2 separate regions of the Homo sapiens genome follow, and region 2 is linked to region 1. Evidence: fine-mapped expression QTL. Tissue or cell type: thyroid. Region 1 holds a variant in brackets; the other region holds the start of a gene. All regions are shown on one strand. Distances are from middle to middle.

The links. PIP is the estimated chance that this variant, and not a neighbour inherited with it, causes the effect.
Region 2: it holds the start of SYT9, and the variant in region 1 is fine-mapped to the expression of SYT9 in thyroid (GTEx, PIP above 0.99).

What each region holds. Positions count from the first base shown.
Region 1 is chr11:7,343,929-7,352,283 of GRCh38, forward strand. All of the region lies in intron 3 of SYT9 (synaptotagmin 9), which reads left to right. Among named protein-coding and RNA genes, the nearest start is that of SYT9, 96 kb to the left of the region's middle. The variant G/C (reference allele first, on the strand shown) is at 3,843.
Region 2 is chr11:7,247,790-7,254,719 of GRCh38, forward strand. SYT9 (synaptotagmin 9) reads left to right here and starts at 4,115. Exons shown (of 7, transcript NM_175733.4): 1 at 4,115-4,542. The coding sequence starts at 4,398. RefSeq lists a silencer at 4,008-4,147.

The DNA of each region.
Region 1 (8,355 bases):
AACGTCATATCTCATGAGACTTATTCACTACCACAAGAACAGTATGCTGGAAACTGCCCTCATGATTCAATTATCTCCCACCAGGTCCCTCTCACAACACATGGGAATTATGGGAGCTACAATTCAAGATGAGATTTGGGTGGGGCACAGCCAAACCACATCAGTCTTTATGGCAGAAGAGGGGAAGAGAAGCTTTCCATTGTGAACACTTCCACACTTGATTATTTCCTTCTTCTTTGGCACATTCCTCATTAATTTCCACCAGGAGGAGGCATGCAGCCCAGTTCCCCTAGTCTCTCTTCCTAAATCCCCCATCTTTTTTTTTCGTTTTTATTATTGAGTTGTGAGAGCTTTTAAAATATTCTGGATGCCAGTCCTTTATCAAATATATGGTATGTGAATATTTTCTCCCAAGCTATGGCTTTTTATTCTCTTAACACTTTCTTTTGAAAGAGAGACATTCTTAATTCTGCTCAAGTCCATTTACTCAATTTCATCTTTTATAGGGTATGTTTTCAGTGGCGTGTCAAAGAAGTCCTGGCCTAATCCAAATTTATACAGTATTTTTTTTTACTGTTTTACTCTAGAAGTTCTATCATTTTAGCTCTTGCATTTATAACTACAATCCATTTTGAGTTAATTTTTATGTATAGTATGATATGGTTTGAAGTTCTTTCTTGTGAATGCATATGTGTGTGTATACTATAAAGTTGTTCCAGCACCATTTGTTGAAAAGTCTATATTTTATCCACACAATTGTCTTTTGCACCTTTGAAGAAAATAATTGATCATATATATGAGTCTATTCTGGACTCTCTATTCTTTTCCATCGCTCTATTTGTCTAGCTTTACTCCAATATCACAGTGTCTTGATTGCAGATTTATAAATCTTGAAATCAAATAGTGTAAGTGCTGCAACTTTACCCTACTTTGTCAAAGTTGTTTTAGTTATCTAGGTCTTTTGCATTTCCATATGAATTTTATAATCAGCTCATTATTTTACACACACACACACACACACACACACACACACACTTGAATTTTTATTGGGGTTGCATTAAATATAGAATCACTTTCTATTATTTGGAAATAATAGGAATCTTAAAAATAGTGAGTCTTCCCATCACAAACAGTGTATCTCTCTCCATTTAGTACATCGTCTTTACCTTCCCTCAGCAATATTTTCTAAGACAGGTCTCTCGAGCTCTCTCATTGTTTATCGTTCTCTTCTCTGGTACTCTACCCTGCAAATTCTAGGGGGGATGGCCTCTCCAGACTCCCAAGTCCGTTTCCTCAACTGAGGGAGCCCACTAGGCTCTGCCTGGGTTTTCACCTGTCTGTACTGTGTCTCTGAAACTTTCTCCAGGTGGTGACATGGGCAGTTTTAGTTCTTGCCTCATTTGTTTCCTGTCACTCAAGGATCACATATCTTCATTACCTGATGTCCAATCATTGTTTCATATATTTTGTCCAGATTTTTAGTTGTTTAAAATGTGAGAGTAAATTCATTTCCTGCCTCTCTGTCATTGTCAGAAGTGATTGATTTTATGTGAGAATTGAAGAAAGAGAGTGGTCAAAGATGGATGATTTTCTGGTTTTCAGCATGAGCAAACTCCAGATGTTGGTATTTACTGAGATGGGAAATATTAGGTGAAGAATAGGCTGTATTCTGGTATAAGTAAGATCATGTGTTCCATTTTTAACATATTCAGTTTGTGCTACCTGTGAGACATTCAAGTATAAAAAAATCAAAAAACAGTTGTATAGACTAGGCTGGAGCTCAGAAGCAGGGCCTGAGTTGGAAATATGAATTAACAAATTGTCAACATATCCTGTTTATGGTATTTGAAAAATAGATGTTGACAAAGGTCTTTACTAGCAGAATGTAGAGTGATAAAAGAGGAGGACAGAGGTCCAGTTTTTGAAGAATACTAATGTTTAGACTTCAGATGGAAAAGAAGACCTTAATCTGAGCAGAGAGAGCCAAAGAGGTAAAAGGAAAACTGGTTGATTGTATCATGGAAGTCACTAGAAGAATGTTTCAAGGAACCAAGAGTGGTCAGAGTCACTCTGACTGAGAGAGTGACAAAGCTACATTGAAGTTGATGAAGAAAGGACTGAAAAGAACCCACTGGATTATGTGACGGCAAAGTCATTGGTGGCTTTAGTAAGGGAACTTTCCATAGAGCAGTAAGGACCAAAGCCAGAACAGAGTAGACTGGAAAGCAAATGACAGGAACAGGAGGCAGCATGTTTAAATAGCTCCGTGGCACATTTGGCTGCAAAAGGGAAGAGGAGGACTGAAATTGGGAAGGAATTTTTCAAAATGGGAGAAAACAGATTATTTAAATACTGACAGCTAAGAGCCAGTAGTGGGGAAGCCTGGAGATGCAAGAAAGAGAGGATGAGCAGCAGAGGGGGTTCCTGTGGCTGAGACCCCATCGGATGGCACGAATGGATGGGACCCAGAACAGAGTTGGCGGATTTGCTTTTGATAAAACTCTTCTTCCCATGTTGCAGTGGGAGGGAGAGGCCAATGCAAGTGCAAATACATTTATGAATCCAAAGGTAAGAAGTCAAGTGTAGCCCTTCTGATGTCTCTGTCTTCTCTGGGAGGGAAGAAACAGGGCTGTGTACTGAGCATATGGAAGAGCCTCTGCCTTCAGGGAGCTTGTGGTCTTTTGGCGTGTACTGCTCTGATGATTTCTTTTATAGTAACTACAAAATCAGTCTCACTTCAACTTGCGTCCCTTTTAAATTTTAAAATGTTTTACTTTTCAAAAATAATTTGCTGGATTTTCCTTGATTATGTAATCTGTCTGCTCAATACAGAAAACTTGAATGAAAACAGAAGAGTAGATAATTCTGATACAAAGTCACCTATAGTCCCTCTGCCCTAAAGTAACCACTGTTAAAGTTTGATATATCTTTCCTGTATAATCTCTGTCCATGGTTCTTCACTTGCAATTTTTATATGGTTGTGACACTATTTTGCCTGCTTCTTTGCTGTAATTTGTTTAAGTAAGGAAACTAAACACAAAGTTTTGTCTCAAAGGACCATTTCTGCAGGTGGGTGGGGCCCCTGTTCCTGAACAGGGCTTCATTCCCTTTGTCCATGTTTGCTGAGATCAGGGCTTCCCTGCTAGCCAGGCATCCCTGAACAAGCCAAAATGCAGAGCACAGCCTTCAAAGGAAGCTTGTCTGTCTTCTCTCTTTGGAGGCTGAGGGGTCACAGTCAGCGTACCCAGAAGAGAAGCTGGGACTTATCAATTAACCAATACTGCTTTCAAACCGTTTTCATCAAAATATTTTTTTTTTTTGAGATGAAGTCTCACGCTTGTCCCCCAGGCTGGAGTGCGATGGCACGATCTCAGCTCACTGCAACCTCTGCCTCCCAGGTTCAAGCGACTCTCTTGCCTCAGCCTCCCAAGTAGCTGGGATTATGGGCAACTGCCACTGTACCCGGCTAATTTTTTTTGTATTTTTAGTGGAGACGGGGTTCTACCATGTTGGCCAGGCTGGTCTCGAACTCCTGACCTCAGGCGATCCACCCACCTCAGCCTCCCAAAGTGCTGGGATTAGAGATGTGAGCCACTGCGCCCAGCCGAACTATTTCCATCAAAGCATGGGGAAGTTTCATATGCAGCTTCAGGGATCTTGGGGCTGGCAGCTGTCAAATAAGCATGCTGTGGGAACTGGGGAGTCAGGAAGATTGTGGATATGTGCTTCTACTTGTGCCTAGAGGAAAAGGTTTCCTCTTGTTTCACAACAGCCTTGGCCAGCAGCTTTTTGAGGGAGTGGGAAGCAGGACAAGGAATTTTGGTGTCTGCCAGATTGAGACA[G/C]GGATCAAGAACTGAGTGAGGACAGAGCGTGAAAGAGTGGTCTCAGGCCTCCTGAAGCATTTGTTCTTTCAACAGACAGGCTCCGTGCTAGCACTAGAATGCCCATGGAAACTGAAGGAGGAAACCACAGGCTGGCAGAAGGCTAAGTCTGTGGCATCAGAGCAGGAAGCAATTCCGTGAAACAGCGACTCTGCTCTAGCTACATTTATTTCCCTCTGTTCCTGGAGGAGTGAGGGGAAGGGGGAGACATCCTTTTCTAACAAGGGACTTTCCTGAATACTTGGATTTTATATTAATTCATGCTTTCAGAATTTAAAGGAACTCTTTCTGCACAGAGGGAGTCCCCCATCAGGTCATGCAATGTTTAACAATTATGGTTTGGCCACATTCTCCTAGAAAAACTACAGGACCTCCCCCTTCAAAGACATATACAACTCCAGGAAGCCACCTGAAAATCTTGTGTTGGTCCCTGTACCAACTCTACCCCCCTCCTCAGTCTCTATTAATCTGTTCCCAAAAAGAAATGTCACCAGATGGCCCTGCAAATGTCACCTGGCCATCAGCATGGCTTCACTCAAAACAGGGAGGCATTAGAGAATCTAATCCATCGTTCATTTCCATCATTTCGGGTCAGTTTGCATCCTTTACTGGGCATATAGTGCTTTCTTAACACACTGGGTTGGACAGTAAGATCTGTAATCCTGCTGATATTAAAGAATATTGCTTCACGTTTAATGGAGGAAGGTCCCAGTGACTCACAGATACTGAACATTCTGTAAGAACTCCTCTCTTGTTAGCATTTAATACCAGATTTTACTGCCCTCAGCTTCATGAACTGAGCACTCCCTCAGCATTCTCAATGCCTCAGGCTATCTTTAGCATTTAATCCCTTCCAGGTATCAGAGCCATCAGACCTCCTTTTTTTTTTTTTTTTTTTTTTTTTTTTTGTATTTTCAAAGTGCGGATGGGTGGATTTTAGGAATTGAGCTGATCCCTTTTTAAAATGGGTTTTTCTTTTACTGTCTCTTAGATTTCATATCCAGTCATGGGCATCAGACCCGTATCCTGTCTCTGCTCTGTGTATTTCTCCATTCTAGCAGTTACAGAAATAGCTGAGGGAGGTGTGACTGGTTCTGGAGAAAGAAAAGAAAGCTGAACTCCTCACGCTGAGGAGGTTGCAGGGCCACAGCTAGGCGGGCTGGGGGTGGGAAGATGGCTGTACTGCTGGGCTGTCAGGCAGAGGGGCCACACATCCAGATGTGCTTTTGAGCTCCCCGCAGCTTTTAGGGAGTGGCTTCCAAATGAGTCATAAAACTCAGAGGTAGGTTTGGAATAGGAGATTTCAAGTGGGCTCCTGCTCACTGTCAGAGCCACTTACTCTCTTTACTGGGGATTAAAGAACTCCACGAGCATTGCCGGGGACTGGGGGGAGGGGAAATTGTTTAATGGATACAGAGTGTCTAGTTGGGGTGATGCCAGCATTCTGGAATAGACAGTAGAGATGGTTGCACAACACTGTGAATGTACTTAATAGCCACTGAACTGTATACTTACACATGGTTAAAATGATAAATTTTATGATGTACATTTTACCACAATAAAAAATATACAAACACACACACACACACACACACACACCATGAAAACTCTCTACCAGAGTGCAAATAAGACTTGGAGACAACAGAGAAAGGCGCAGGCCCAAATGCACAGAGTTGCCCCTGCCTCCAGCCAGTTGAGGTGGGCTGCGGGCAGGGGTCATGTTCCTACAGGGGCCACCTACTCATCTTAGCAGAGACTCCATACAGCAAGGGCTGGGTTTCCCTCAGCTTCCCAGAGCCCAGGCCTATCACCCTACCAACGTCTGTCCCAACAAATCCATGCACATTGCCTATATGCCAGACCCCAGTTCTAGTGTGTTTTCCACTTAATTTTCACAGAAGTGAAATAGCTATTATGCCCATATGACAGAATAGGAAAATGAGGTATAGAAGGGTTCATTACTCGCCTAAGGCCACACAAGTGATAAAGGTGAGATAGCATTTAAATGTAAGTCTATTTGAAGCCTGTGTTCCAAAACTCAGTTTTCCCGATTATACTACACTTCAAAATATCCATCTTGGTAAAAAAATAGGTCCTGAACAATGCTTCCATCAACTCTAGAATAAAAATGAGTTTGTATCATGATTTGAATCCAGTACACTTCAGAGACACTGGCATTCTGCTGCTTTCATCACACTCCACCCTGTGAGTCACTCATGCCAGGGGGGGACCCACCGAGGATGCCTCATGGGTCAATATAGTTTTTGCTGAATAGATGATACATCAGAGGCTGAATAAGGATCAGGCTGGCCGGACAGATTTCCAGAGAACTAATCAATAAAGGGTACTAAAACATTGAGGTGGAGGAACCTATTAATCTGTATAACTTTCTAGAAGAACATTACATATGGTTGGAAATAATACCTGAAGAAGTGATGACATTCCCAAATAGCTCAAGTTGCAGTAGATGCTCACTAATATGTCTTCTGAAGGTGTAGGTCCAGGCAAATGCAGGCTTCAGGCTTGAGCTATTTGGGTGGTAAAGGAAAGACTAGCACTGTCTCCAACAACCCTCTTTGTCTACCCATCAGAGCAGCCAACTTCTCATAAACACTGAACAGATATTTAAATAACATCAGTTTGAAGAATGGCCAAAGTCACCTCCTACCTGAGCTGCCTACGTGCATTGATCTGTCCTGCAGGCCACAAGTTTTTATCCCCTCTTTCCTATGTCTCAGCCTACTTCTGCCTCATAGATACACACCTCAAAATGCAGCCCTGGGGCCTGGGCTCACTTTCCTTCATCTTCCATATCTCAAGGCTTATGTTAGAGCTCATTCTCTTTTCTTTCAGGTCCAATCTCTTCTCCTCTCAATGCCCACTGCCACAGCTCCTTCTTTGGTGACTGGCATTGCTATTGCCACCACCACCAACTTTCAACCTGAGAGCATGATTTTTCCAGAAGACGTGATGTAGAAAGAGAGAGAAAATAAATGCTACTTGCATTTTGACACTATCTAAAAGCAAACAGATAAATGTTTAGCTTTAAAAACATTTCTAAATGTGTAAAACAATTATTTATAGTGGATTCTTGACCCTGATCCCATTGCTCACTCTCAACCTATGTGTGAGGGATGGTCACTTATGGAGTGAGATTAGGCGTGAAGTAAGTATCAGGGTAACAAAACCAGTGATTTTTTAAATGATGTCATGATTTTGTCTTAAAAAAAGTCAAGATCAAAGCGGCCAGCTAATAAAGTCCTGGTCCTACATAAATAACTAGGGTTTTAAAAAATTATCTTTAATGATTTTTTTAACCTCCTTGAAAAAGATGAAGTGGTATATATTGCCTGTTTCTTAATGGTTAAGTATCATGAACTTTGGTGGGGAAAGAAACTGAAAGCCCAGTAATTCCCTCGGTCTTTATATAAGAAGAGTATTATCTGAATGTCGTTTGGGGCAGTGGTTATATTTTTAAGCATCTGTCATTCATGCTAATTGACCAGGGATGTGGCTAGCCAGGGTCAAGCTCCCACAGTCAGTGCAAGAGGGCCCTGAGGCTTTGGGCAGCCTGTCCGATGGCAGCCACCTAATGTAGGATGCAGTGGCAGTGCTGGCCCACTTTTGAGAGCAGCCGCTGAGTTACGGACTCCTTGTGTGGGAGCTGTATGTCGGACTGGAGCTCCAGACTGCTCATTCCCTGCCCAGAGCCTTACCCTGTCATCATTGATTTTATGGGGAAAGAAAGCATCTCCTTTTGTAAACACCACACCAGCATCTTCAATAAGATGATGCAATGGGATTAATGATGCACTTTCCAGCATCCTCATCGATTCTGAAGATGGAAGTAGAAACTTGAGATGAGACTAAGCCATGTTTTGTCAACATTTTGCTTCTCTAGCAAGCAAAATATCCTCAAATTGTGAGTTTACTTGAAAGATATGCTGGTATTTGAATCCCCAGGGCTGGGAAGATTCTATTTTACAGACATCACCAGGAGTGTGACACTCAGGCCTGAGAGTAAGGAGAAAGGAAGGAAAAATTAATGAGTAACCAACCACTCTATTTCAGAGTCTGTTGTATGGGTGAGCTGGTGGTGATTGGCTTGCAAATGTGTTTTCCAGGAAAAAAAACTCTACAGGAGTGGTGGGAACAGGATGGGAGTGGGAGGGCACAGAGGGACCAACAGACCTTCCTTTTCTTTGCAGGTCTAGGTCTGAGGATGGCCCAGATGGTGAGCAATTGTGTGGCTATTTAGTCAAATCCCAACTAGCTCAGCAGATAACTGAACATCCCTGAGGGGCTTGGGAAATATATGTGTTTGTGAAGTGCTGTGAGAATTTACCCAGTGTAGCTCAATCTGCCTCAGACTGACTTCTGACATAAATGAATTTTAAGAAAGTAGGCGTTTTCCTTCTTGAAGAAGCATAAACTCATATTAGGTTAGAATCTCAGGAGTTTGTATTCAGTTGAT
Region 2 (6,930 bases), 97 kb before region 1:
ATGTGCAAGTATCTTTTTCGTATAATGACCTCTTTTGCTCTGGGTAGATACCCAGTAGTGGGACAGCTGCATCAAATGGTAGTTCTACTTTTAGTTCTTTAAGGCATCTCCACACTGTTTTCCATAGTGGTTGTACCAGTTTACATTCCCATCAGCAATGTAGAATTGTTCCTTGTTCACTGCATCCACACCAACATCTACTGTTTTTTGATTTTTTGATTATGGTCATTCTTGCAGGAGTAAGGTGGTATCGCATTGTGCTTTTGATTTCAATTTCCCTGTTCATTAGTATGTTGACCATTTTTTCATGTTTGTTGGCCATTTGTATATCTTCTTTTGAGAATTGTCTATCCATGTCCTTATCCCACTTTTTGATGGGATTGTTTGTTTTTTTCGTGTTGATTTGTTTGAGTTCGTTGTAGATTCTGGATATTAGTCCTTTGTCAGATGTATAGATTGTGAAGATTTTTCTCCCACTCTGTGAGTTGTCTGTTTACTCTGCTGTTTTTTTTTTCCTGTGCAAAAGCTCTTTAGTTTAATTAAGTCCCAGAAATGTATCTATCTTTGTTTTTATTGCATTTGTTTTTGGGTTCTTGGTCACGAAATCCTTGCCTAAGCCAATGTCTAGAAGAGTTTTTACAATGTTATCTTCCAGAATTTTTATAGTTTCAGCTCTTAGATTTAAGTCCTTAATCCATCTTGAGTTGATTTTTGTATAAGGTGAGAGATGAGGATCCAGTTTCATTCTCCTACATGTGGCTAGCCAATTATTGCAGCACCATTTGTTGAAAAGGGTGTCCTTTCCAAATAAAATACTTAGGAATATACCTAAACAAGGAGGTGAAAGACCTCTACAAGGAAGACTGCAAAACACTGCTGAAAGAGATCAGAGATGACACAAACAAATGGAAACATGTCCCATGCTCACAGATGGATAGAATTAATATTGTGAAAATGACTATACTGCCAAAAGCAATCTACAAATTCAACACAATTCCCATCAAAATACCACCATCATTCTTCATAAAATTACAAAAAACAATTCTAAAATTCATATGGAACCAAAAAAGAGCCCACATAGCCAAAGCAAGACTAAGCAAAAAGAGCAAATCTGGAGGCATCACATTACCTGATTTCAAACTATACTATAAGACCATAGTCACCAAAACAGCATGGTAGTTGTATAAAAATAGGTATACAGACCAATGGAACAGAATAGAGAACCCAGAAATAAACCCAAATACTTACAGCCAGCTGGTTTGATGATTCTTATAAGGAAACTAATCCTATTGGATCAGGGCTCTACCTTTATGACCTCATTTACTCTTAATTAAGTCCTATCTCCAAATACAGTGACATCGGGAATTAGGGCTTCAACATAAGAATTTACAGTTCACTCTATAGCAGTATCTCACTTCCCTTCTGTATGATATTCTTTCTCCACATTGTTTCTCATTCTTCTGGACCCCTCTCCAGCAAGATATCCTGTAAAAGTTGCAAGATCTTTTCAAGTCTAGACTCAGCTCAGAATTTCACTTCTACACATTCTGTTGAATAAAGTGAGTCACAAGGCAGGCCCAAATTCAAGCAGAGGGGAACAGACTTGACTTCTTGATGGGAAGAGTGGTAAAATCACACTCCAAAAGGACACATGGAATTGGAGGGATAGCTATGGCTGTCTTTGGAAACAGTCTACCAATTTGTCCTTGAACAAATTGTTTAACCACCTGATTTTACTTTCTTTGCCTGTAAAATAGGAAATATAGCATCAACCACTTTGGGATGTTGTAAGTAATAGATTAAGAAAGTGTGTTTAGCACCTCGTACATTGTAGTAGAAACATAACAGAAACAGCAAAAACACATATTGGTTGAGCCCATACTATGTGGCAGCACTATTACAAGCACTTAAATATATTGCTTTATGTAATCTTTGTAACAGCCCAAAGATACACGTTATCTTTGAGATAAGATGAGAAACCCTAGGCACAAAAATGTTAACTTGCACAAGGTTGGTTGCATAGTAACTAGTCTGTCTAAATCTTGAATGTCTTACTGTCTACTTTATCCAAAGGACACTTTTTAGTTTTTTCTCTTTAAACTATATTTGAAAGTTTACAGTTGATGTTGCTCGCTCCTCTACCAAACACTCCTCCTCCCGTGATCCCTATGACTCCCCTCTGTACAATCTTTCCTCCTGTTCTCATTGCTACCTTCCAATCTCCTCTTTCATTTCTTCAACTCTTCTTTCTTGAAGGAACCATCCCATGTGGCAACTCAGTTTCTACCTTTCCAATGATGATTGCCAGTCTTCACTCTCTCCTAAACTCTAGGCTTGCATTTCTAAGTGTTATTAGGGTGTGAGCACATATGACCCAGGTAACGTTTTGAAACGTTTGTGCCTTTCACTTCTTTCTTATTCCATTGGTTGCAATCTTGTCACTTAATACTTGAAATGTTTTTCAAATTTGGATGTTTCTAGCAATCAGCTAATGCCTTTGGCCTGGTTTAGGCCTTCATCATCTCTTGCCTGGTTTATCAAAGTCATTTTTTAACTGAACTTGTTGCTTTCAGTTCCTCTCTGACATGATGGCATTAGGGTAATATTTCCATGTGCTTCAACACACATACCTTCTCACCATTACTATATGTCCCCCCCGCCACCCCCCCCCAGCATCACACTATCTCTGGTGTCACCTTCTCTGTTCATGGCCTTTTTCTTCTTCTCTAGGGGTTCCCCCCTTTGAAGAAACAGCATCTGCTCAACCTCCCCTACAGGCTCCCTTAAAGCTGGTTTCTCCTCCCTCTGTTTGTCTCTTTGCAACTCTCTGGAGGCATCTTTACCTTTACAACTTTGCATTTTCTCTGCTATTCCCATGTAAGTTCCCTGAAACCCTAGTACCATTCACAGCAGGATTTCAAAGGTTGCCTGTTGCGTGAGCATTCTATAGGATCCCAAATTATCTTTCTGTGCAAATATGAATTGTTGTGATATGTCCGTAGAGACGGCACAACCTCATGGCTAAGAATGATAGTTACCAGTTCTAGAGATCCTACTCTAATTGCTCTAGAGTGGGGGCCTGAACACCAGTATTACAAAAAAGACAAAAGAAAAAGAAGGAAAAAAGAAAAAAGAAAGAGAGAAAATCAAAGCTACCTTCATCATGTATGAATTTGAGCAAGTAACACCTTTGTGAGTCCCCAGGCCCCAGTTTCTCATTGGTAAAATGAGGATAACAATTACACAGACCTTGTTGGGCTATGTACAGAATTAAATGAGATTATGTACCTAAAAGGCTTGTGGCACAGTGACACACACACACACACACACACACACACACACACCCAGAGTACTTCGTGGTTATTTCTAGGCTTTACTGCTTGAAAGGCTGAAAAGATGGGTGGATGAGAGGTGCCCTGAGGTTCCTTCCAACTCTCCAAGATTCTGTGATACTCCTCCTTGGGTGCTGAAGACACTTTGGCAATGTTTGGATTTCCAAACGGTTGCTTAGAAAACTAAGGGACCCACGAAGCCCAGGTAAGCCTCAGGGTCTTTCCCAGGAATCGTTTATTTATTTGATCTTAGTTCTGACCTAGAGCCTCCACCTTCTCCATCCAAATCACCACAGTGGTCGAAAAGGGCCTGTGCTTGGGAAATCCTTCCTTTGTTGGCGAATCTTGGACCCAAACCCTGCATTTGGGCATCTGACACCCATAGGCCCATGGTTCAAACCCAGGCGGCTCTTTCCAAGTTCGAAGCAGGGACTCGGTTCTGCGCATCTGGCGGGTGTGCCCAGATTGTAACCTTCGCACTAGGCATCCAAGAACGTGCTTTGGACACACTCGGCGGTGGGAGCGGGTGCTTGGTTTGCATCAGGGATGAGGGGTGGAGTAGCGAAAGCGCCCGGAGCGCGCACTCACTCACACTCCCCAAGCCAGGGCGCGGCCGCTCTGGGCGCGAGGTCCCAAGCCAAGTCTCGCGCTCGGCCAGGAGCCGGGGAGTACCCCAGGTCCCCGGTCTGGGGCCGCCGCTATCCTACCCTGCGGCGCGCACTCCTGACCTGGCCCCGCCCCCCGGCGGCCGCGAGTAGCGGGCGGAGCGCAAGCAGAGAGGCGCTCTGGGCTGTGCGGCACCGCCTCTCCTCGGTGTCTGGGGAGGGACGGAGGGACCGGGCGGGAGAGAGAGAAAGCCTGACCGACCGGCTGGCGAAGAGCTGCATGCAACCGGTGGGAGGCCGGGCCGGCTGGGTCTGGGGCTCGGGCTCAGGCTCGCACCGTTTCTCGGCAGGTCCCTGGCGGTGAGCGCGGACGGCCCGGAGGCGGCGGCTCTGAGCTGGCAGGCGGAGGGCTGTCTCCTGCGCCCGCCTGCCCGGCGCGGTCCGAGGATGCGGGGGGGCGATGCCCGGGGCCAGGGACGCGCTCTGTCACCAGGCGCTGCAGCTGCTGGCCGAGCTCTGTGCCCGTGGGGCCCTGGAGCACGACAGCTGCCAGGATTTCATTTACCACCTGCGGGACCGTGCCAGACCCCGGCTCCGCGACCCAGGTGAGTGCCGCCACCGCCGCCTGGAGGGACCTAAGGGCCCTGGGCTGGGACTTGGGGCCGCACCGGGGCCTGAGGCAGAACAGCGACGCGGACTGGGAGAGGGCGGGGGGCGGCCACCGAGCCAGGAGAGTGATCAAGAACCAGCGCACTGTGGCCTGATGCTGTAACCAGGCGGGGACCCGGGCGGTGGCTACTGCACGGAGGCCGACTCCGGGTCGGCTAGGGCAGGGTTGGAGGGACCACGCCCGCCACCTGCGCTCCCATCGCCAAGGCTCCTGGGGGCGGCTCCCTAGCTCCGAGCTACGCTCTCCACTTCCCGGGCTATCTGCACTCAGAGCGAGGGGAGGCCGCGGCGGCCTCGGAGCCGTGGGAAGGGGGACGAGGCCGAAGGAAACTCTGGGAAGTTGGGAGTTGGGGACGGCCCCGGGTTGGGGCCGAATCCCACCGGGTGCTGCTCATCCTTTCTCCCAAGCGTCTAGTTCCTTTCCTTGGTATGGGGTGAGAAGGGCGGGACGCGATCCGGCGTTGGGCCGGGGACAGGGTGCTTCTGGCCTTGGGCAGACGGGCCTGAACCCGTTCCCGGCGGGTCGCACGGCATGGAGGTGGCCTGGGCCTGGGCGCTAGGCTCGACCAGCGACTACCGCCGGCCACGATGGGGTTCGTAGACTCGTCGGTCCTGGCTTGTGCACCTGTAGTTACTCCTAGTGAAAGTTGCAAAGCTCTTAACTTTGGAAAGTTCATTTATTTTGGCATTTGACCAATTAAGGTTGGAGGAGGGAGTTTTAGTGGAGCCATTTGCTTTTCCTGAGGTCCCTGGGTCTCCCAGGTCGTCTCATCCGTTACTGGCTACTGGAAAATGCATTCCTTCCAATGTTTGCTTGAGATGTTTCTCACCTGGAGAAATAGTTTTCTCGAATATTCTCCCAACCTAAGTACTTACCAAAACAGCATATTGTGGTTGGATTGTTAAAAATGGGATGAGAAAATGGCCTTTCTCTTGATATTGCTATGTATAAATATTGGAAATGAGCTATTGCCTTGCAAATTATGATGTACGAATTGAAAACAATTTATTATATAAAAATCCATTTATCCAAAAGATAAATTAAAGAATTATTTGATTTATAAAGAGTGTCACACTGAGCCAGACTTAAATAGCATATCCTTGATATATTCAAGATGGTCGTGTGGGGTGAAGTCATCTGCTAAAATTTTAAAGTTTATATCAGATTTTCCCTACCAGAGGCTTTTTTTTCCTATTGAAAAAGAAAAAAATATTGTTTTCCATTGCCGGTGGTTATATTAACTAAGTTTATTGAATGATCATTGATATATTACTTCAAAGTGGATAATTGGGTAGAGAAATACTGATCCCAGTGGTTTCCAGGGAGGTTTAATGTCCAGCCTATGTGCATCTCATTGCTGGATGTGATGTGCTGAATAAACCACAGTCCCTTATCTCACAAGCTGGAGTCCCAGGAAGATGTCTTAAGTCGGGGAAGTTCGTCCTTAAGCAGCAGAAGCAAGACAATTATTTTGCATGCTTTGCCCAAAGCAAGTATTAGTATTGAAACATCTCACTTCCTTGCCTGTGACCAGACCACGAGTTCTCCTTGTTATCCCACATAAGCAGTTGTCTTTGGCTTTACAAGAGAAGATGGATGAGGCCTATCTCTGAATCACATCTTTTTGGCCAGTTTTCTGCTTCTACTCCTTTTAATCCGGGAGCTGGATCCTGTGTTCTCAGATTCTCTTCAGCCCCTACACCAGGCAACCCCTGAGAAAGAGTCACTAAGTAGGCTTCTTACAAGAGGAAATCTGATTCCTTGGCGGAGGAATAGCTAGAGATAGGAGTCGACCTTGCTGCTCTGAGTTCCTGATAGCAGTGCTCTGCTTTCTTAAACTAGGACACAAGGGTTTTGAAGTAGCCCCATGCCCCTGTGGCTCTTTGGTTTTTGTTGGAAAGTAGCCAGCTCATGAGGACAGGGGTGGGGGTTTTCGAGTGCAAGGTGAGAGGAAATGAGGCCAAAGATTACATCCAAAGTGCACCCTCTCCTTCAGGACACTTCTCCCTTCATTTCCAAATCTCCCTTCATTTCCCTCCTTCCTTGCCTTGCCGACATTAATTCTTACATCAGATGCATTTGTCTTCATCCCTCTGAAGCAAGAGTGTCTTTAATCTCGGAACCCTAAAAGCTGAGTAGTAGAAAAGCTGCACCACACAACGCCGTGTGAATAATGTCCCTGCTGTTGATAGTGTGAACCAGAACAACCATGCACAGCAGCCCTGAGACATGGGTTCCTAGAGAGAGTCATCTCGGTAAATGGATGACTTCTTTTTCTGGAAAGGAATCCACCTGAATGCCATGTCCCAGCTTTCTCTGTTAT